3 separate regions of the Homo sapiens genome follow, and regions 1 and 2 are each reported to be linked to region 3. Evidence: microRNA targets listed by miRTarBase, many of them from high-throughput screens and not tested one by one. Region 3 holds a microRNA gene; each other region holds the end of a gene's coding sequence.

Region 1 (7,102 bases), not on the chromosome of region 3:
ATATCGAAGTCCTACTGTGTGCCGAGCCCTGGCATGGTACGCTCTGCTTACATCCTCTCCTCTGTTTGGAGAGAGACATGTAAACGCGGTGAGCCAAGTCCAGGCTTGGAGAAGGCTGTGGGCACCAACTGTGGCCAGATGTGTGGGAGGGAGCTCAGGATGTTCGTCACCACATGGAAAGAGCCCGTCAGCTCAGAACACAGGAGAGGCTGCCCTTTCCCGAATCCCTGGACAGGCCTCTGGGCACTGCTAACTCCAGTCCCACCATGCACAAACCAACATCCCTCCCCATGCCCACTTTCTCCAGTTTGCTCTCTCCCTCTGGTCTAATTGGTTTCTTCTCACACAGTTCCATAGTGCTTATGGCATCAAAGGGAAGATACGTCTCCAGAGGCCCATGGACCAGAGTGCTGGAAAAGCTTGGGGCAGACAGGGGTCTCAAGTTGAAAGGTAAGGGTTTGAACTGGGGTTTAAACTGACCCCAAAACCAGAGAAGGCAAATGCCTGGCATGGAGGGTGCTGTCATCTTTTGCTGAGTTGAGAACATGCTTTGTACTAAACGTGGGTACAACCTAAGAATCCCCCACACAACTAGTGGTCTACTGGAATGGATGGGCAAGATGCCACCTGTTTACCACCCCTGCACTGCAGCAAATTTATTATAACTTGCCACCAGCCACTGAAAGAAAATTGCTATATTTGTTGACTCATTTGCTTGGAAAGTGGCCCTTTATTCAACAAAAGTATCATAAGAAAAGTGGCTTAGTCTCACCCTCCTACCCAATTCCTGCTATTCAGACTGGCCAGGGGTCCTGCATCTTCTTCAACATTCTAGCTGATGCCTAGCGTTTGTACAGTCCTTTGCAGCTTGCAAAACTCTTATTTGTTCCAGAAAACTAAAGCCCAGAGAACCTACATGGCTTGTCCAAGGCCAGGCAGCTTCGGTGGTGAAGCCTAGCACAGGCTTGCTGGCTGTGCTGGAAGAAGCCATCCAGGAGGGACATGTCAGCATGACACCCATTATCATCACAAAAACTAGGTGCAGGGAGAGTCCTCAGAGAGGCTGTATGGGCGGCAGAGAAGCTCCACGGGCAATAATGATAATGATCATTGTGGTTGCTATTCAATGTTCAGCCTTGCACTTTGCACAACATGTTATAATTATCTCACTTACTCATTAATAACCTGTGCAGCAGGTACTATTATTTCCATTTAAGATGAGGACACCAAGAATTTAACAGCCAAGCCACTTGCTTAAGGTTAGGACTTGGATCCTAATCTTCCTAACTCAAAGCTGGGCTTCTTAGTTATACACCATCCTCACTATGGAAAACATCAAAATCAGAAACCCATCATATGGGGCAATGAGAAAAATCAGAAGCAATGCAAACCCTTCAAACCAGCCAAAGGAGGACATAAGGAAAAGAGAAGTATCCTTTCCAGCCCAGTCCTGAAATCATTTTGGAGCCTCTGTCTTTTAAATTAAGATCCCGGTTGCCAAAAGCTGATGTATGTAAGGTGACCTAAGTTGAATGGCACTTTCCCGGTGGTGATAAATGCATGTTGCCTGCCAAGATGGGCTGAGTATAGACGTGGATTCCCATGCCCCTCGGATGCTCAAGCTGTGAACTGCAAGATGGAGAGTGCTGTGTGGGTTTCAGGGGTTTAGAGTTCTAATCTGGGGTGCACCATTTACTCCACACTCTTGGTCAAATTTCTTCACCTCTCAGAACTCTTTCTAGAGCCACAGAGTGATAGAGTGGGGAAGGAGATCTTGTAGATCAATGCCATCATTTGATGGATGGGAACACTGGGCTTCAGAGAGGGGCAGGGACTTGCTGGTTGTCCTAGGGGCAGCTCAAAGGTAGGCAGGTTCCTAGGAGGTCTCCTCCCTTACAGTTTGCCCCATTTCCTGCTGTGCATGGCTCCCCTGTCTACAACAAAGCCATCACCCTGCCTAGGTGGCAGTGAGGCTCAGGTGAGACCCTGCCTGCCCCATACAAACACATGTCAGGCACCATCAGTAGCTGAGCACAGAGCTCTTCCCAAGGGGCCACAGTGCAGTGTGGCTAGGCGGTACCTGGTGGGCGTGGGGGGCTGGCGATGGGGAGCCATGGAACGGGGTGGGGCAGCCGTCCTCTCATAGGGCTTTTGCTCAGGAGACTCATCATTGCTTTTCAGAGCAAATGGCATTCGTTGGCTTCAAAGGCAGCTTCCGGCCCATCTGGGTGACACTGGACACTGAGGATCACAAAGCCAAAATCTTCCAAGTTGTGCCCATCCCTGTGGTGAAGAAGAAGAAGTTGTGAGGACAGCTGCCGCCCGGTGCCACCTCGTGGTAGACTATGACGGTGACTCTTGGCAGCAGACCAGTGGGGGATGGCTGGGTCCCCCAGCCCCTGCCAGCAGCTGCCTGGGAAGGCCGTGTTTCAGCCCTGATGGGCCAAGGGAAGGCTATCAGAGACCCTGGTGCTGCCACCTGCCCCTACTCAAGTGTCTACCTGGAGCCCCTGGGGCGGTGCTGGCCAATGCTGGAAACATTCACTTTCCTGCAGCCTCTTGGGTGCTTCTCTCCTATCTGTGCCTCTTCAGTGGGGGTTTGGGGACCATATCAGGAGACCTGGGTTGTGCTGACAGCAAAGATCCACTTTGGCAGGAGCCCTGACCCAGCTAGGAGGTAGTCTGGAGGGCTGGTCATTCACAGATCCCCATGGTCTTCAGCAGACAAGTGAGGGTGGTAAATGTAGGAGAAAGAGCCTTGGCCTTAAGGAAATCTTTACTCCTGTAAGCAAGAGCCAACCTCACAGGATTAGGAGCTGGGGTAGAACTGGCTATCCTTGGGGAAGAGGCAAGCCCTGCCTCTGGCCGTGTCCACCTTTCAGGAGACTTTGAGTGGCAGGTTTGGACTTGGACTAGATGACTCTCAAAGGCCCTTTTAGTTCTGAGATTCCAGAAATCTGCTGCATTTCACATGGTACCTGGAACCCAACAGTTCATGGATATCCACTGATATCCATGATGCTGGGTGCCCCAGCGCACACGGGATGGAGAGGTGAGAACTAATGCCTAGCTTGAGGGGTCTGCAGTCCAGTAGGGCAGGCAGTCAGGTCCATGTGCACTGCAATGCCAGGTGGAGAAATCACAGAGAGGTAAAATGGAGGCCAGTGCCATTTCAGAGGGGAGGCTCAGGAAGGCTTCTTGCTTACAGGAATGAAGGCTGGGGGCATTTTGCTGGGGGGAGATGAGGCAGCCTCTGGAATGGCTCAGGGATTCAGCCCTCCCTGCCGCTGCCTGCTGAAGCTGGTGACTACGGGGTCGCCCTTTGCTCACGTCTCTCTGGCCCACTCATGATGGAGAAGTGTGGTCAGAGGGGAGCAATGGGCTTTGCTGCTTATGAGCACAGAGGAATTCAGTCCCCAGGCAGCCCTGCCTCTGACTCCAAGAGGGTGAAGTCCACAGAAGTGAGCTCCTGCCTTAGGGCCTCATTTGCTCTTCATCCAGGGAACTGAGCACAGGGGGCCTCCAGGAGACCCTAGATGTGCTCGTACTCCCTCGGCCTGGGATTTCAGAGCTGGAAATATAGAAAATATCTAGCCCAAAGCCTTCATTTTAACAGATGGGGAAAGTGAGCCCCCAAGATGGGAAAGAACCACACAGCTAAGGGAGGGCCTGGGGAGCCCCACCCTAGCCCTTGCTGCCACACCACATTGCCTCAACAACCGGCCCCAGAGTGCCCAGGCACTCCTGAGGTAGCTTCTGGAAATGGGGACAAGTCCCCTCGAAGGAAAGGAAATGACTAGAGTAGAATGACAGCTAGCAGATCTCTTCCCTCCTGCTCCCAGCGCACACAAACCCGCCCTCCCCTTGGTGTTGGCGGTCCCTGTGGCCTTCACTTTGTTCACTACCTGTCAGCCCAGCCTGGGTGCACAGTAGCTGCAACTCCCCATTGGTGCTACCTGGCTCTCCTGTCTCTGCAGCTCTACAGGTGAGGCCCAGCAGAGGGAGTAGGGCTCGCCATGTTTCTGGTGAGCCAATTTGGCTGATCTTGGGTGTCTGAACAGCTATTGGGTCCACCCCAGTCCCTTTCAGCTGCTGCTTAATGCCCTGCTCTCTCCCTGGCCCACCTTATAGAGAGCCCAAAGAGCTCCTGTAAGAGGGAGAACTCTATCTGTGGTTTATAATCTTGCACGAGGCACCAGAGTCTCCCTGGGTCTTGTGATGAACTACATTTATCCCCTTTCCTGCCCCAACCACAAACTCTTTCCTTCAAAGAGGGCCTGCCTGGCTCCCTCCACCCAACTGCACCCATGAGACTCGGTCCAAGAGTCCATTCCCCAGGTGGGAGCCAACTGTCAGGGAGGTCTTTCCCACCAAACATCTTTCAGCTGCTGGGAGGTGACCATAGGGCTCTGCTTTTAAAGATATGGCTGCTTCAAAGGCCAGAGTCACAGGAAGGACTTCTTCCAGGGAGATTAGTGGTGATGGAGAGGAGAGTTAAAATGACCTCATGTCCTTCTTGTCCACGGTTTTGTTGAGTTTTCACTCTTCTAATGCAAGGGTCTCACACTGTGAACCACTTAGGATGTGATCACTTTCAGGTGGCCAGGAATGTTGAATGTCTTTGGCTCAGTTCATTTAAAAAAGATATCTATTTGAAAGTTCTCAGAGTTGTACATATGTTTCACAGTACAGGATCTGTACATAAAAGTTTCTTTCCTAAACCATTCACCAAGAGCCAATATCTAGGCATTTTCTTGGTAGCACAAATTTTCTTATTGCTTAGAAAATTGTCCTCCTTGTTATTTCTGTTTGTAAGACTTAAGTGAGTTAGGTCTTTAAGGAAAGCAACGCTCCTCTGAAATGCTTGTCTTTTTTCTGTTGCCGAAATAGCTGGTCCTTTTTCGGGAGTTAGATGTATAGAGTGTTTGTATGTAAACATTTCTTGTAGGCATCACCATGAACAAAGATATATTTTCTATTTATTTATTATATGTGCACTTCAAGAAGTCACTGTCAGAGAAATAAAGAATTGTCTTAAATGTCATGATTGGAGATGTCCTTTGCATTGCTTGGAAGGGGTGTACCTAGAGCCAAGGAAATTGGCTCTGGTTTGGAAAAATTTTGCTGTTATTATAGTAAACATACAAAGGATGTCATCATCTTGTCTGTTTGTTTCATTTTCTATTAAAATGGGCTTCATTTTATCTAGGGATAATAACTTATCTAAGGATAACCTAAGATAAACAGTTATCTAAGGATAATAAGGCTGATGAAATCACCCCATGTGTCTGCCTTACTTCCATGGCCTTATTCCCAAGAGCTAGTCATATGTCAAGATCCTACCTTGCCTTGCCCCAAGGCGGGGTGTCCATAAGAGCAGGTGGAGATGGTTCAAAGAAAGAGAAGATATCATTCATATGGCTGGCCATGTCCAGAACTTGCTGCGTCCTCCACATTTCTAAGCTGTCAGGAGGCTGTCACTTCAACTCCCCTCCCCGATGGGGAAGCCAGGCAGAAGCAGGACTCTCTTTTCCTCCCAGGCCCTGTTTGGCTGGAGGCCAAACACGTTTGACAAGAGCATGGGGGCTGAGGTGGGAAAAACAGGTCCAAATCAAACTGGCAGACGAGAGGCAGGCACAGGTAGAGGGCACCTCAGGCAGCACTGGAAGGGGCTCAGGGGTCTGGAAGGGAGAGAGTGAGAGGCAGAGGTTAGAGCAGGTGAACTGGGAGTGGTCCAGAACTGCCAGTCCAGGAGGGCAGCCACTAGCTTCATGGGGCTACCTACATTTAAATTAATTTAAATTAAATGCAATTAAAAATGCAGTTCCTCAATCACATTGGCCACAATTTTCAAGTGCTCAATGGCTATGTGTGTCTAGTGGCTACCATATAGGATAGAGTCGATATAAAACATTTCCATCACCACAGAGAGTTCTTCTCTTGATTTCCAAAGAGCTCCTGGGTCTTATGCATTGGGTTTAAAAACAAAACAACTATGTCTCGTGTGTGTGTGTGTGTGTGTGTATGTCTCTCTGTCTGTCTGTCTGTGTGCATCTGTGTATAGTCAATTCACTTAAAGGGGCTGGTACCAGATTGGTCGTTTTAAGCTGCCAATACACAAATATATCTGGCAGACTAGCTTTGGGCATAAAGTCAGCTGTGCAGTAGAGAGTACACGGCCTCTACCTTCAGGAAACTTTGCCAGGAGAAAGAGATCACACTTGCACACTCAGTCAACAAATATTTTTGCACCCCTGCTCTGTGCCAGGCACGGTGCACACAGAGGAACACAGAATGACCCCATGGAGAACATGAAATTACCTGCCCAATGAGTGGTGTGGCAGGCTTCTGAGGGCAGGGAGTGATCATCGCCTGGATTGGTCAGGGAAGGTCAGTGAGTGGAAGTAGGACAGGTGTTGGCCTGAGAGTCAGAGATGGATAAGAGAAGGGCCTTTTGTAAGAGGCAGAGTCTGACAGAGGGGCAGCTATCAGAGTGTGGGCTTGAGAACACCTGGGCATAAATCAAGGCTCAGTCATGAGAGGCAAAGTGGAAGGTGGGTTGGGCCAAACACAGGGTCAGCTTTAGGGCCCACTGGCTGTGATGAAAGAGGGTGGGGGGTTACTAGTGACTTCTCAGCCAGAAGTGTCACTGTGTGAAAGAGAGCACAGCCCACTGATTCAGTAGGTGCATAGAAGAGGCATCCAGGGAGGACTTGGAAAGCAGACGCCAACGAGGAACCGTCGAGCAATGGGACACTGCACCCAGCTAGACGCACAGCAAAAGAAGCCACAGAGAGGTTGGGGTGGAGGGACAGGCAGGCACTTCAGGGTCCTTCATTTGTCCCTGCAATAGTCACCAGATCCCACAAGTAGTCACTGCAATGCATTAGGTGACCAGTGGGCACCTTCCGTTCCTGTCCGCAGGGAGACAGACAGGATGATCTGCTCTCCCTCACCAGCCTGGGAGGGGACAGGTCAGAAAAGTGTGGCAGAGTTAAGTTTTGCAGAATGCATAGGAATGAACTAAGTGAAGAAGGGCAAAGAACATTCCTGGTGAGGGAATGGTGCTGGGAAGGCCTGGAGGCGATGTGTAGGAGTTGCT
Region 2 (7,102 bases), not on the chromosome of region 3:
GCTACCATTTATGGTTTTTCAGCATTTGGGTTGTTATATTTGAAAAATACTTTTAGTTGTTTAATCCTTATAAAAACCTTTTCTAAATAAGAGGCTGGGCCGGGCGCAGTGGCTCATGCCAGGCGGGTAGATCACCTGAGATCAGGAGTTCGAGACCAGCCTGGTCAACATGATGAAACCCCATCTCTACTAAAAATACAAAAAATTAGCTGGGTGTGGTGGCGGGTGCCTGTGATTCCAGCTACTGGGGAGGCTGAGGCAGGAGAAGCGCTTGAACCTGGGAGTTGGAGGTTGCAGTGAGCCAGGATCGTGCCACTGCACTCCAGTCTGGGCAACAATTGCAAAACTCTTGTCTCAAAAAAAAAAAAAAAAAAAAAAAAGGCTGGTTGGGAGGCTGAGGCAGGCAGATCATCTGAAGTCAGGAGTTCAAGACCAGCCTGGCCAATATGGTGAAACCCTGTCTCTACTAAAAATACAAAAATTAGCCGGGCATGGTGGCGGGCACCTGTAATCCCAGCTACTCAAGAGGCTAAGGCAGGAGAATCACTTGAACCTGGGAGGTGAAGGTAGGTTGCAGTGAGCCAAGATCGCACCATTGCACTCCAGCCTGGGCGACAGAGCAAGACTCTGTCTCAAAAACTAAAAATAAAAATAAAAAAATAAAAAAGAGGCTGGAAGTACATTTTCTTTCTGGTACAGGTGGAAAAAAACTTCAGTAGTATTCCAAGTATTCTTCAAACTTTCAACTAATGCTTCTCAAAATTTTAAGGGTGCATCAGAATTACCTGAAAGGCTTGGTAAAATCAGACTGTGGAGCCACACCTCCAGAGTTTCTGATTCAGTAGTCTAGGATGGGGCCCAAGAATTTGCTTTTCTAACAAGTTCCCTACTGATGCTGATGTTGTTGGTCTCTGGATCACACTTTGAGATCTACTGCTCTAAGCCTCACTGGAGAAAGTAGCAGTAGATGCCCAGTAAGCAGAAGCTAGACATTAAAGTCCTCTAGACATCATGTCCTTTCATGTCTATAAAGCAATAAATTATTGTCACTTACCTACTATTATAATTAAAATACATAAATTTCTGAAATGTATACACAAAGCAAGATAAAGAGTTAGGACCTAAGACTTAAATTAAAACATCTCATATATAAAAATATTAAACCCAGCCCTGAATTAATCTAGGAGTACTCATAATCTGATAATTAACCCAGATTAGTTTATTTTGAGCCTCTGAATTTAACTTGACAAGTAAGAATTTTTCAGACTTAAAAATTTTTTTTTTTAATTTTTCAGAATAGAGGTATAATTTAATTACTTTTTTTTTTGAGGGAAATATGAAATCTGATGATGATCCTCCTGCTATTCCACCGAGACAGCCTCCTCCTCCAAAGGTAAAACCCAGAGTTCCTGTTCCTACTGGTGCATTTGATGGGCCTCTGCATAGTCCACCTCCGCCACCACCAAGAGATCCTCTTCCTGATACCCCTCCACCAGTTCCCCTTCGGCCTCCAGAACACTTTATAAACTGTCCATTTAATCTTCAGCCACCTCCACTGGGGCATCTTCACAGAGATTCAGACTGGCTCAGAGACATTAGTACGTGTCCAAATTCGCCAAGCACTCCTCCTAGCACACCCTCTCCAAGGGTACCGCGTCGATGCTATGTGCTCAGTTCTAGTCAGAATAATCTTGCTCATCCTCCAGCTCCCCCTGTTCCACCAAGGCAGAATTCAAGCCCTCATCTGCCAAAACTGCCACCAAAGACTTACAAACGGGAGCTTTCGCACCCCCCATTGTACAGACTGCCTTTGCTAGAAAATGCAGAAACTCCCCAATGACCTTAGCCATATGTAGTCATTGACACTGGAATGGTATTTGTAAAGTTTTTTTTTTAATTTATTCAAAAAAAGACATAGTATTTTAGTACTTTTTACAAATAATGCTCTTACAAAAATGCTACTGATCAAATAAGCTTTTAAGAATTGGAAAAATAAAAATACAAAAGTCCTTCACCATTATCCTCAGGTGATCAGTAGCATTGCCTTGTCTTGGATCCTCAGTGCTGCCAAAAGGCCAGTATAAAGAATTTATATTTGCACTGTAAACTCTGCAAAAATATGGTTTAAAGTGACATGATTGCACTGAAAAGGGATAGTGCTTTTGTGAAATTTTTCAAATTTGAGTAATAGATGCCTTTTTAAGGCAGTGAATTTACACAAATATGGGAGGGGTATATGGTGTTACTGATTTTTAAACCTCTTTGACCATCTTCTAGTTTTTACTTCTAGTTTTTACATCTAGGAGAATTGTGAATAACACCAACTGTTCTTAAACTCTTTAATGCCATGTCTTAAATGCCGGTATTTGCTGCTGAAGACAAAAATGAAAAGTAGGATGAAAATAATAGAATGGCACTGTAAGTGTTTATTATTTTGTCAAAATGTAAACAAAGACTACATAACCCAATGATGGAGGGAAAAAGGGCATGTATCTCATTCAGATGTGCCTTTTGTTTTTGCAGACTATGACGTCTTTAGCTAATGAATTGCCTATTGTTATGGAAAACAGTTAATATGCCATGTATGTACAGTTTTGTTTATATTGTATATTTAAAGATACTGCTAATAACCTATATAAATTTAAGTGACTTGAGGCCTATAATACAATCTGCTACTTTACTAATTCATAAATTCAAAAAAAATTCTATGGCATAGGAACCAACTGCCTTGCCTTCAAGACCTAGTAACTTTCTCTATAAATCTCGTGTTAACTGAAATTTTTTTTAAATATATTTTTTAGATTGGTAATATTTAAACCAGCAAATACTTAAAGCTTTATTAAACATTTTAATCAGATAAGTGAGTAAAGCTTTTATTTGCCATTTGGATGCCTTCGTTCAAAGTGATAGAGTGTTTTGCTGATAGTGCTGTAGCAGCAGTTGTAAAGTAGCCAAAAGCCACGTTGTTTATTTACTGGTTTGTGGCCTTTTACTGTGCTTTGTATCAGAGTTCTTAACAAGATTAATAAATCACCCCAGTCTTAATTTTTAAAAGACTTTTAAAATATGTGTTTTCATTATAAGGAACAAAGGGGGAGATTGTTGAGTCCTATAGACACACACACACACACACACAATTTTTTCTTCACTGTTAAATGTGAGCTGCAGGCTTCTAGCAACCACTTTTATGAATTCATACAAAAAACTAGGAGCATACTAGGAACTTGAAAAGGAAGATTGTAAGATTATAGCCATCTTTGGTAGGATCTTGGAAGCTGATTGCATTTAAGCCTTGTAACTACTATGTAAATCAAGTGTCCAACTTGGTAAACTCTGAGGTTGGCTTTGTTTTTTAAAGAGCAGATTATAATAGTTTTGTCTGGGAAAGTGATTTAAACGGCCTCTTCGTTAAGCCAAACGTGTGATTTAGGGTAGAGGGAGGCTGCCAAGCGCGTCGGGTAAGCAGGGGCCCCACGCTCGGCCCCGCCCAGGTAACGCTGCCTTCCGGGCTTTGTTAACTCGCGCGCGCTGCGTCGCCAACTCAGCGGCGGGCAGGGGGCGGAGCCGCAGGGCGGGGCGGTGCGCGTTGATGTGACGTCCCTGCGCGCGCCGCTTTCTGTTGCCGGGCGCAATGGCGGATACGCTGGAGTCCTCGCTGGAGGACCCACTGCGGAGCTTTGTGCGAGTTTTGGAGAAGCGGGATGGTACAGTGCTACGACTACAGCAGTATAGCTCCGGTGGCGTGGGTTGCGTTGTGTGGGACGCTGCCATTGTCCTTTCTAAATACCTGGAAACGCCCGAGTTTTCTGGCGACGGGGCCCACGCGCTGAGCCGGCGGTCGGTGCTGGAGCTGGGTTCGGGCACCGGGGCCGTGGGGCTCATGGCTGCTACCCTCGGGTAAGAGCTGGCGGGCGGGCGGGATGTGGGGGCGCCTTCTTGCTGGGGAAATCCGGATTACAGGCTTTCCCCCCTGTGCCTACACCTCAGTCGACGTTATTTTATAGGGCTGATGTTGTAGTCACCGATCTTGAGGAATTGCAAGACTTGCTGAAGATGAATATTAATATGAACAAGCATCTTGTCACTGGTTCTGTTCAAGCCAAGGTACTGAAATGGTTTGTATGGCCTTTCAGCTTGTTTTAAGATATTGATTTGTAGTTTGTTTTGAATTGCGTTTCATTAAAAGGATGGAAGGGGACTTTCCGGTTCTTTATAAAACAAGAGTATTTTGAATTATTAAAACAATTGAAATATTTGTTTGGCATTTTTAAGGGGGGAAGAAATAGAAGGCTTTCCTTCTCCACCCGACTTCATACTGATGGCCGACTGCATATACTATGAAGAGGTAAGTATCCAGTGAGCGAAGTCTCTTCACTTAGAAGATGAACCTTATTCCATGAATTCTAAAGCACACGTTTCTTCACATTTTAACATCTTTGAATCCGGGATTTGCCTTATAGTTGATGCAGTAAAGAGAAGATAAAAGTCACCAGGGACCATATGTATATACGCTCATCATTATCATACCGACCTGGTGAAGCATGTTGAGAAAAGTGTTATATGCATTTTACTAGAGGCTTCTGTAAAAATTTTAAAGGATTTTGCCAATTGGATGTTATGAAAAGCCAAAATCCTCTCTTTTTCCCTTGGTTGTTCCCACGGAACATGTTAACCATGACATTGAGAATTAAGTTATAAATAATTCATTGTTCTTTTCTTTAAATACCAGTTTGGGCCGGGCGCGGTGGCTCACGCCTGTAATCCCAACACTTGGGAGGTCAAGGCAGGTGGCTCACCTGAGGTCGGGAGTTCGAGACCAGCCTGACCTACATGGCAAAACCCTGTCTCTACTAAAAATACAAAATTAGCCAGGCGTGGTGGTGCATGTCTGTAATCCTAGCTATTTGGGAGTCTGAGGCAGGAGAATCGCTTGAACCTGGGAGGCGGAGGTTGCAGTGAGCCGAAATCATGCCATTGCATTCCAGCCTGGGCAACAAGAGCAAAACTCTGTCTCAAAAAAAAAAAAAAAAAAAAAAAACATCAGTTTGTATAGTGTTGTGGGCATCGATTATTTTAAAAATAATTAGCATTGAACCAAGTTAGGGTCAGATTTAACTTTTGTAGGGAAATCGTTGATTATTTAAATCCCAAATTAGATTAAATAAAATTAAACTTTTAAGAGTAAGGTTGATTCCATTTGTTTCCCATGAGAACTCCAAAATGCAGTCATCTGAATCCTTTTTCTGGAAACCAAAATCAGTACATGGTTTAGTTAACAGGAGCTTACCCAATCATTAGTTACAGAGGGGTTTTTGTTTGTTTGTTTTTGTTTTAAGATAGGGGTCTTGCTCTGTCACACATGTTGTAGTGCAGTGGAGTGATCATAGCTCACTGTAACCTCGAGCTCCTGAGGCTCAAGTAATCCTCCCATTCAGCCTCCTCAATAGCTGGGACTATAGGTGTGCACCAGCATGCTGGCTAATTTTTAAATTTTTTGTAAGGTGTTGCGGGGGGTGGTTTGTCTCTCGCTGTATTCTCCAGGCTGGTCTTCAACTCCTGCTTTCAAGCGATCTTTCCACCTCTGCCTTCCAAAGTGTTGATATTACAGGTGTGAGCCACTGCACCTAGCCTAGAGCTTTAATTACATGTGCTTTGTTGGATTGATTCAAAGATGGATAAATTGTAGGGGAGCTATAAATACCCCTGTACCTCCTCAACCTACTTTTAGAGTAGAAAAATTTTTAAATCAAAAACAAAAAATATATTCTTTTTTAAATAGTCTTTGGAGCCATTGCTGAAAACTCTAAAAGATATCAGCGGATTTGAAACTTGTATTATATGTTGTTATGAACAACGAACAATGGGGAAAAATCCAGAAATTGAGAAAAAATATTTTGAGGTAAGTATTAAGTACTCTATTATCTTTGTAGTGATTTCCCTTCAGGGGGGCTGTATGTGACTCTTCAAGTATATTATGGTAATTTTGGGTGGGGAAAACATGCTGTTTGTGTGAAGCTGAGGAAAGGATCTTCACAGCCCATGATTCTACGAAGCTCCCCTTTTTCATCTTTTCTGATACTTTATTTCATTTCTAATTAGTTGATCTATGGCTACAGAAGAATGTTAATACGGGTGCCACTCCTTTTTAAGAACAGTTTTCAGTGTTTATTAAACATGATGCTGCCTTTGGGGAACATCTCAATGATGTATGTATTACCTTTGGAGAATACGTGATAGAAATGTGCAGGTGATAAGTTGTTTTTGTTTTGAGACAGGGTTTCACCCTGTAGCCCATGCCGGAGTGCAGTGGCACAGTCAGGGCTCACTGCATCCTCAACCTCCTGGGCTCAAGTGATCCTCCTGCCTCAGTGTCACCCCCCCCCCCCCCCGCCCCCAAGTAAGTGGGACTATAGGCATGTACCACCACACCCGGCTAACTTTTTGTATTTTTTTGTAGAGATGGGGTTTTCCCATGTTGCCAAGTGATAAGTTTTTACTTCTGTGTTTTTCTCTACATATTTATGAAACCTCCAACCTAGATACCTGTCTATTTTTAGGGTCTTTTTTTTTGTTTTTTAAACTTTTTGTCTGAAATAGTTAGAAAAGACTTACAGGAAGTTGCAAAATATAGTATATAGGGTTTTATGTATCTGTCACTCTTCTTCCCCTAGTGATCACCCAAACCCTTATATGGGCACAAATCTATCACATTGTGAGTGACTCCTTTTGAGGGTACATCTATATAGGCCTGCAGTTTTGTCTGCTGGAAGGACTACTTTGGTTTAATGAGAAAGCAGGTATATGACTGCCTCAGGTAACAAATACTAAAATGTTTGTTTATTTTCATGTTTTTCTTGAATATGAAAAATGTTCATGAACTTTTGAAATGATGCATAATGAAAATTTCGTACTGTTAAACAGCTTTTATTGGGGTAAAGCATATGTAAAATGCATATGTATCAGTCAAGTGCTGAGCTTAATTTTTCATATGTATACACCCAAGTAACTACTTACCAACATAAAGATAGAGGACATTTTCAGGATCTTGGAAGGTTTGCACACTGCCCTTTCCCAGGCAATACTCAAAAGGTAACCACTGACC
Region 3 (7,102 bases):
CTCCAGTATCCCCAGCATGTGTGCACACCTGCACAGTGAGTACAAATGAGCTTTATCCTCCTATATGTGCTAGCTAGGCAGTACACTCAGGGGACTGTGGCTGTACTGTTCTCTTCTGGCTCCCTACAGGAGTAAATAATACTGGCAGGCAGCAGGAGAGGTAGGCGATGTACAAGGGCTCTGTCCTTCCATCTGCAGCTAAGGCTCACCCCATCTGAATCCCTGCCAAGGTGCATTGCATGTGGAGAGCACTAGTACCAGTATCAAGGATTAAAGAGAAGGAGCAAATGAGAAGGCTCAGGCACCTGTACCCCAAGGATAGCATGGGAGTTAGGAAAGAAAAAGCTCCCCTTTTCCAGCCCCTTGAACACATGAAGGCAGGCTGAATGGGAATGATGAACTGTGTTCTCTGGCACAAGCTCACCCCACAGTAAAACCAGGGTCCCTGATGCTCTTGCCACTATTGGATCCCCAAATCCAACAGGCATTCAAAAAGCTCTCTGAAAGGAACTAGGAGAGGTGACAGGCACTCTCTGCTCTGTGCATAACATACCATCTGTGAGTCCTAGCCCAGGTGTACTGCACTGGGACAGCACTTGCATGCGGATGCTACAGATTAAAGAGGCAGTGTCAGCATATGTACCCAACTCATATGTGACAAAGAGGGAAGAGAGGGCTCAGTCTCCTACTCCTCTTTCTCTCACACTTCACATGCAATGTATCAGTAAACTCAACTGGCTGTAACTTTAAAATATAACCACTTTTTACTACCTTCACCACGATCACCCTGATGTAGGCCTCCATCCATCTCTCAACTGAATTATTTCAATGGCCTCCTAACTGGTCTCCCAGTTTCTGCACTTTCTCCTCCTATTTGCCATACAACAGTCAGAACCATACTTGTGAAGCAAAGACACAGAAAACTGTAATCCTGATTTTGAATCAGAAGTATAATGGAATCATGATGTATTTATCTAGAAACAAGAAAACACAAAAACAAAACATTTTTCTGTTCTGATCATTGTAGAAGCCTAAATACAATGACCAATCCAGAGGCAAATATGGTCTTTAAATATCATGTCTGATTAAAAGAAACCAGGGCTTCTTGAAGACATGGCAGATTCCAGGCCTGGGGAAGGTATCTGCGATGAGCTTTGTACATTTTTTTCATCTCTGAAAGCGGAGAAGCTATCAGATAACTACGGAGGCATGTCAAAAGGACTGAGGAACCAATTTGAAGAAGCTCCTACTGGCTAAAGATGGGGCACTGGAGCTTCACTGAAGGCAAGAACTGCAATGGATTAAAAGTCCAAATATATTTAAATCTATGAGTTTATTATAATAGTTTTTTTAAAAAATCCTCTTTAGAGTAAGCTAGTGAACCAACTCATTATTCTGAGTACTGATAAATAAAGAGAACCAAACATTTATCCTATCTTGCCTATAAAGACGGCAACACTGGGTGATCAAATAGCAGATGAAGGGAAGTTTTTCTTTATAGAAGTATTCCAGCTAATAAATCAAGAGAATAATGGGATTAGAATATCATCATTTTGCAACCCCTAATGAAATAACGGCTCTAAGAATTGAGCATCGGTGGCAACTAACATCACAGAAAGATGATCATCAGTTATTTTGTGCCTCTTAATGGAAGTAGTTCTGCTCCCCCTTCCTCAAAATTAAGCCTGAATTTGATCAGGCTTCCAGATGCAACTATCAGTTTACAGGAAATACAAACAAGGAGAAGGAACATGTAAACTACATCACAGGGATGTGATCACAAAAATCCAGACTATGCAAAACTGTATAGGATGAATGGCCCACTTTCTTCCAACAAATAAATTATAAGGAAAGAAAAAATATAGATGGAAGGGAAAGATATAATTCAAAGGGACTTAAGATACATATCAACCAAATGCAATGCATGGACCTTATCTGGATCCTAATTTATGATATTTCTGAGACAAGTGGAAATGGGAACAACAGATATGTGATGATATTAAAAAATTGTTGGCAATTTTTTTTCTTTTTGAGATGAAGCCTCGCTCTTGTCACCCAGGCTGGAGCGCAGTGGCACGATCTTGGCTCACTGCAACCTCCGCCTCCCGGGTTCAAGCGATTCTCCTGCCTCAGCCTCCCGAGTAGCTGGGATTACAGGCACCTGCCACCAGGCCTGACTAATTTTTGTATTTTTAGTAGAGACGGGGTTTCACCATGTTGGCCAGGCTGGTCTTGAATTCCTAACCTCAGGTGATCTGCCTACCTTAGCCTCCCACAAAGTGCTGAGATTACAGGCATGAGCCCCTGTGCCTGGATGGTAATTATTTTTAAGTGTGATAATGGTATGATTTTTTTTTTAAAAGCGGCCTTAGATTTTAGAGATACATAGTAATTATCAGCTTTCCCTTTTTCCATTGTAACTTACTACTTCCCAGCCCTATGCTTCTGCCACAATGGCTCTTTGTTGTTCCTAGAACACAGTAGGCCTTTCCTGACTACCCTATTTGATATCGAAACTTCTCCACCACCATCTATGCTGTAACTACCCCCACCCACTCCTTGTCCCCTTTTCCTGCCTTATTATTCTCCAGAGCACTTATCAACAATTGGCACACTATCTATTACTTACTTATTTTGTTCACTACCTGCCTCCCCTCACTAGGGCAGGGATTCTTGTCTTTTGGTCACTGGTGTATCCCTGGTGCATAGGGGAGTACCCAACACACAGTAGCTGCTCGATAAATATTTGCTGAATGAATGAGTGGCTCACCAAATGAATCGGCTGCAAATCCTGGGTCTGGGGAGATAACAGAGAAAACTCACAATCTGACTCATATCTACATGAGTGTCTAAGAAGACAGATCTTCACACACCCTCTTGAGCAAACAAGTGTGCATATGGAAAGGCATGGCACAGTGAGTGGATTCTACTTTCTGAACCCAAAATGTGTGTGCATATTACATCTTTGCATATGGTTATGATATAGACACAATTTTCCTCACAAACTGGGTTTGTGAGAATTAGCTAGAAGACTCCCTTTTCATCATGCCCCATGTACAGGAGTCCTGAGAAGGTTCTCTCTCCTCCTCTAGGTGCCGCTAAGACAGAACCAGGTCAAAAGACCCCCCTTCCTTCTCTAGGCTGTGCCTATCCCTGAGTATGAGGGGCTGCACCATGTGCAAGAGAAAGCTAAGAGAAGTCTCCCTCTCCTGCAGGATCCATGTAAGACTGAGATGGGAGAAAGGACATGGCTGAGAGTCATTCTCCTTCCCACCACATGGGTGTGTGTTTTTCTTTTGGTGAAGGAGTGCGTATGTGTATATACACATGCACAAGAGAGCAAGGAAAGCTGAGGCTCGCCATCCTGCAAACCCTGCATGTGGGAGGGGTTTTCAGAAAGCTCACCCTCCACCATGCAAGGGATGTGAGAGAGGGAGCAGGGAAGGGCTTGCTCTCTTGGCACGACATATGGGTATGCTCTAGGAGGCAAGAGGCACTGGCCTGGGGGGTGCAAGTGGGCAGCAAGATAGCCACAGGAGTGCTGATGGGTAAACTAGGAGCAGTGGCCATGGAAGCAGGACAGTCATCCAGATGGGATGGCTGCTAACAGTGTACCCCACATACAGAGCACGTAAGAGAGGGTCTACCTCCCTTTGGTGTACCTGTCCATGTGCTCATGCCTATGCACTGGAGAGGGAAGAGAAGGCTCGCTCTTCTGCAAGCCTTGGGTGTGGGAGGGTAATTAAGATGCCAACGGTCCTACACTCAAGGCATGGAGGAGAGAAAGCAAGTCGGGAGGTCTGCTCTCCTGTATACTGTGTGCATGCGTATCCCAGATGCCTTGGACTTCTATGACTGTGCCCCAGACATGCTGTAATGAGAAGGTGTGCTTGTGTACATTCACATATGTACCTTCAGAAATGTTCACTATCTACAACATATTTGTTTTCCTTCCTTCTTTCTTTTCCTTTATTTTTATTCCTAACACCAGTATAGTATTTACATTTGCAGAGCACTGTTTTAAGTGCTTTTCACACATAGCTCATTTATTCTCATAAAATATCCATGAGGTGATCATTATCCCTATTTTACAGATGAAATAACACACATACGAGAACAGATGGTAAGAAAGCTTAGAATCTGGCATGCAGGTCATTAGAAAGAGGACTCAAAAAAGGAGGCTCAAGCTCTCAGCCACCAACCACTTTGTGTCCACACACACACCACACACACACACACACACACACACACACACACACAGAGAGAGAGAGAGAGAGACAGAGACAGAGACAGAGACAGAGAGACAGACAGACAGACAGACGCAAGAGAACTTGCACTTGTCAGCCCAGGGAAAAGCTGGATTAGTGTGGAAATAATAGAGGAAGTGAGAAGTATGAGAAGTGGCTGTGTGGTCAGATTAGACATGTATTTTGAAAGTAGAGCCAACAAGATTTGACAGCAGTTTGTATTTGGAGAATGGAGGGGAAAAAGTGTCAAAGATGAATCCAAAACCTTTAGCTTATTAAAATTCTCCATATCCTTGGCATATGCAATTGGGAAATGCTGTTTGCTGAGTTGGAGAACACAGAGGGAGGAGTAGGGCTTTTTGAGAGGGGGAGGAAAACCAGGACCTCAGCTTTGGATGTGTTAAAGTTTTGAGATACTTATTAGACATTCGGGGCAGATGTCCAGTACATAGTTGGACATAGGCATCTGGAATTCAGGAGAGAAGTCCAGGCTGGAAATACAAACACAGAAATCATCCACATAAAATGGTACTTAGAGTTGCAAGACAAGATGAGAACAGCTGAGGACTAATGAGAAGTTAAAAAAAAAAAAAGAAGTCTGAAGACTAAGCCCTATATCTCTTTAATACTTAGAATTCAGGAAGAGGAGGAGAAACCATCAAGAGACTGAGAAAGAGAGGCTTGTGAGGTAAGAAGACAACCTCATGAGTGTGGAATCCTGGAAAGCAGGTAGAGTCTCAAGGCAGAGGGAGTGATCAACTGTGTGTTGATCTGTCAAGTAAGATGACAACATTGCCCAGTAAATTGGGAAATGTGAAGGACACTGGGGACCTTGACCAGGGTCATTTAAGTGCTGCAGGTTACAGTTTTACATGGAGGGTTTTCAAGAGTAAATGGGACTAACATTTAAGTCTTTAATCCATCTTGAATTAATTTTTGTATAAGGTGTAAGGAAGGGATCCAAGGACAGAAAACCAAACACCACATGTTCTCACTCATAGGTGGGAATTGAACAATGAGAACACTTGGACACAGGAAGGGGAACATCACACATCGGGGCCTGTCATGGGGTGGGGGGAGGGGGGAGGGATAGCATTAGGAGATATACCTAATGTAAATGACAAGTTAACGGGTGCAGCACACCAACATGGCACATGTATGCATATGTAACAAACCTGCATGTTGTGCACATGTACCCTAGAACTTAAAGTATACATTTAAAAAAAAGAGTAAATGGGAGAAATAGAAGTAGAGATGGAGTACAATCAGCTCCTTCAAAAAAATTTTTTTTTTTTCTGTAAAGAGGAACAGAGAAATGAGTAGAAACTGGAGGAGCTTTTTGGGTAGAGAAGGTAGTGCTTTTTAATTTTTAAAATTATTTTTAGACAGGATATGTGGCAGCACATCTAGATATTGGTACAAACACTCCAGTATACAAAGAACAGTTGATGATGCAGTAAGGAGAGGGGGATCAATTGCAGGAGCACTGTCACTGAATAGGTGACAGGGGTTGAAATCTAGTATACAAGTGGAGGAACTGGTCCTGGCTACATGTGCCAGTAATTCATCTACCATAATGGGGAGGAGCTGACACTTAGGGACATGTGCAGGTAATGGAGGAGAGGTCAGAGGAACTTCAGAGGGTCCCTTCTGATGGCTTCCATTTTCTCAAGGAAGAAGAAAGCAAAGTCAGCAGCTGAGAGTGAGGAGGAAGGAAGGGAGGTGACACTGCAGATTTGAGGAAAGGAAAGAATTATGAAACAGTCATCCAAGGCAGTACTTCCCAAACATTTTCAAATAATGGGACCAAGCAGCTTAGGTGTGAGTTTTCTTCTATGGAGAATCAGTTGCTCCAGGCAAAGCATATGGATTAAGGAAGTTTATTACATGTTAATCCCAATACATGCGTCGCCTCCTTCAGTGCTTATTACAAACCTATATGGTTGGCACAATTAGTTATCTCATTTTCATGTTGTGGAAATTGAGACACAAGATAAGTCACTTGTCTAGGATCACAAAGCTCATTACAGATCACGCCAGGATTCTACCACAGGTAATCTGACTACCAAGACAGTGGGCCTAACCACTGAACCCTAAAGCTGTGTGTACCCACATGTGTATGAGAACTGAAAATGATAAGGACCCACTTTCTGGCACATCCTTGGCACACACATGTGAGATGAGGGAGGAAAAGGAAGAGAGAAAGAGCAAGGATGGAGAATAAGGAGGCTCAAGCTCCTATCATAAATGTGTGTGGGGGCATGCACAGAAAAGGGGTAATAAGGTGGCTGACACAGTGGTTCACACGCCACTGTGGCCCAGCCAGTGTGTGCATTGGGAGGTTGTAATAACCTCCCAATTGGGAGGTCAGTTTTATTTTAGGTTAAGCCATGCGTGGGGTAGGAGAGTGGCAGCAATAGAAGGCTCACAGTCCTGCGATGCTGGATGCAATGGGGCAACTCAGGTGTCTCCCTTACATGCATATCATGAGTGTATGCACATGAGAGAAAGAAAGAGAAAAGCAGGATTAGAGAGAGAGGCTGCAAGCAGGAGGCGGATGGGGAAACCCACAGTCCAACAGGTTTGGGGAAGCATATTTAAAATAAAAAGCTCACTGTAGTTCTGTGTGGTCAAGGTGGGATGGGATAGCTTGAGAGGCTTGCACCCCTGCATGGGGCAGGAGAGCTGGGGGAGTGGAGAGCAGAGACAGGGCAGATATAGGAAGAATGCTCACTGATGAATCCTAGCAAATTTTTAAAATATCATAAATTTCATACTATTTTTACAATGTAAATAACTGTCATTCAAACAATGCTCCACAACCTTTAAAACAAGTAAAAAAAGGGGCTTTTAAT

Evidence for each region. Region 3 holds the annotated microRNA hsa-miR-188-5p (CAUCCCUUGCAUGGUGGAGGG, at 3,405-3,425, opposite strand). A microRNA usually pairs through its seed, bases 2 to 8, with sites in the 3' UTR of a target mRNA and lowers its output. Matches are read on the target gene's strand: a 7mer-m8 pairs with bases 2 to 8, a 7mer-A1 pairs with bases 2 to 7 and ends in A, and an 8mer does both.
Region 1: the mRNA of CEMIP is a reported target of hsa-miR-188-5p. The part of its 3' UTR that is shown has no 7-base or 8-base seed match.
Region 2: the mRNA of SOS2 is a reported target of hsa-miR-188-5p. Seed matches in the 3' UTR shown: 8mer at 2,149-2,156.

What each region holds. Positions count from the first base shown.
Region 1 is chr15:80,946,616-80,953,717 of GRCh38, forward strand. CEMIP (cell migration inducing hyaluronidase 1) reads left to right here. Exons shown (of 30, transcript NM_001293298.2): 29 at 350-450; 30 at 2,182-5,156. The coding sequence ends at 2,309. It also overlaps a transcript of MESD not described here. Among named protein-coding and RNA genes, the nearest start is that of MESD, 40 kb to the right of the region's middle. RefSeq lists enhancers at 6,041-7,013, 7,014-7,102.
Region 2 is chr14:50,113,082-50,120,183 of GRCh38, reverse strand. It overlaps SOS2 (SOS Ras/Rho guanine nucleotide exchange factor 2), which reads left to right. Exons shown (of 23, transcript NM_006939.4): 23 at 1,331-3,054. The coding sequence ends at 1,840. VCPKMT (valosin containing protein lysine methyltransferase) reads left to right here and starts at 3,612. Exons shown (of 6, transcript NM_024558.3): 1 at 3,612-3,897; 2 at 4,005-4,115; 3 at 4,273-4,345; 4 at 5,780-5,899. The coding sequence starts at 3,632. RefSeq lists an enhancer at 3,616-3,675.
Region 3 is chrX:49,999,840-50,006,941 of GRCh38, reverse strand. MIR188 (microRNA 188) reads right to left here and starts at 3,439; the gene lies at 3,354-3,439. The region is part of intron 3 of CLCN5 (chloride voltage-gated channel 5); the gene reads right to left. MIR532 (microRNA 532) reads right to left here and starts at 3,794; the gene lies at 3,704-3,794.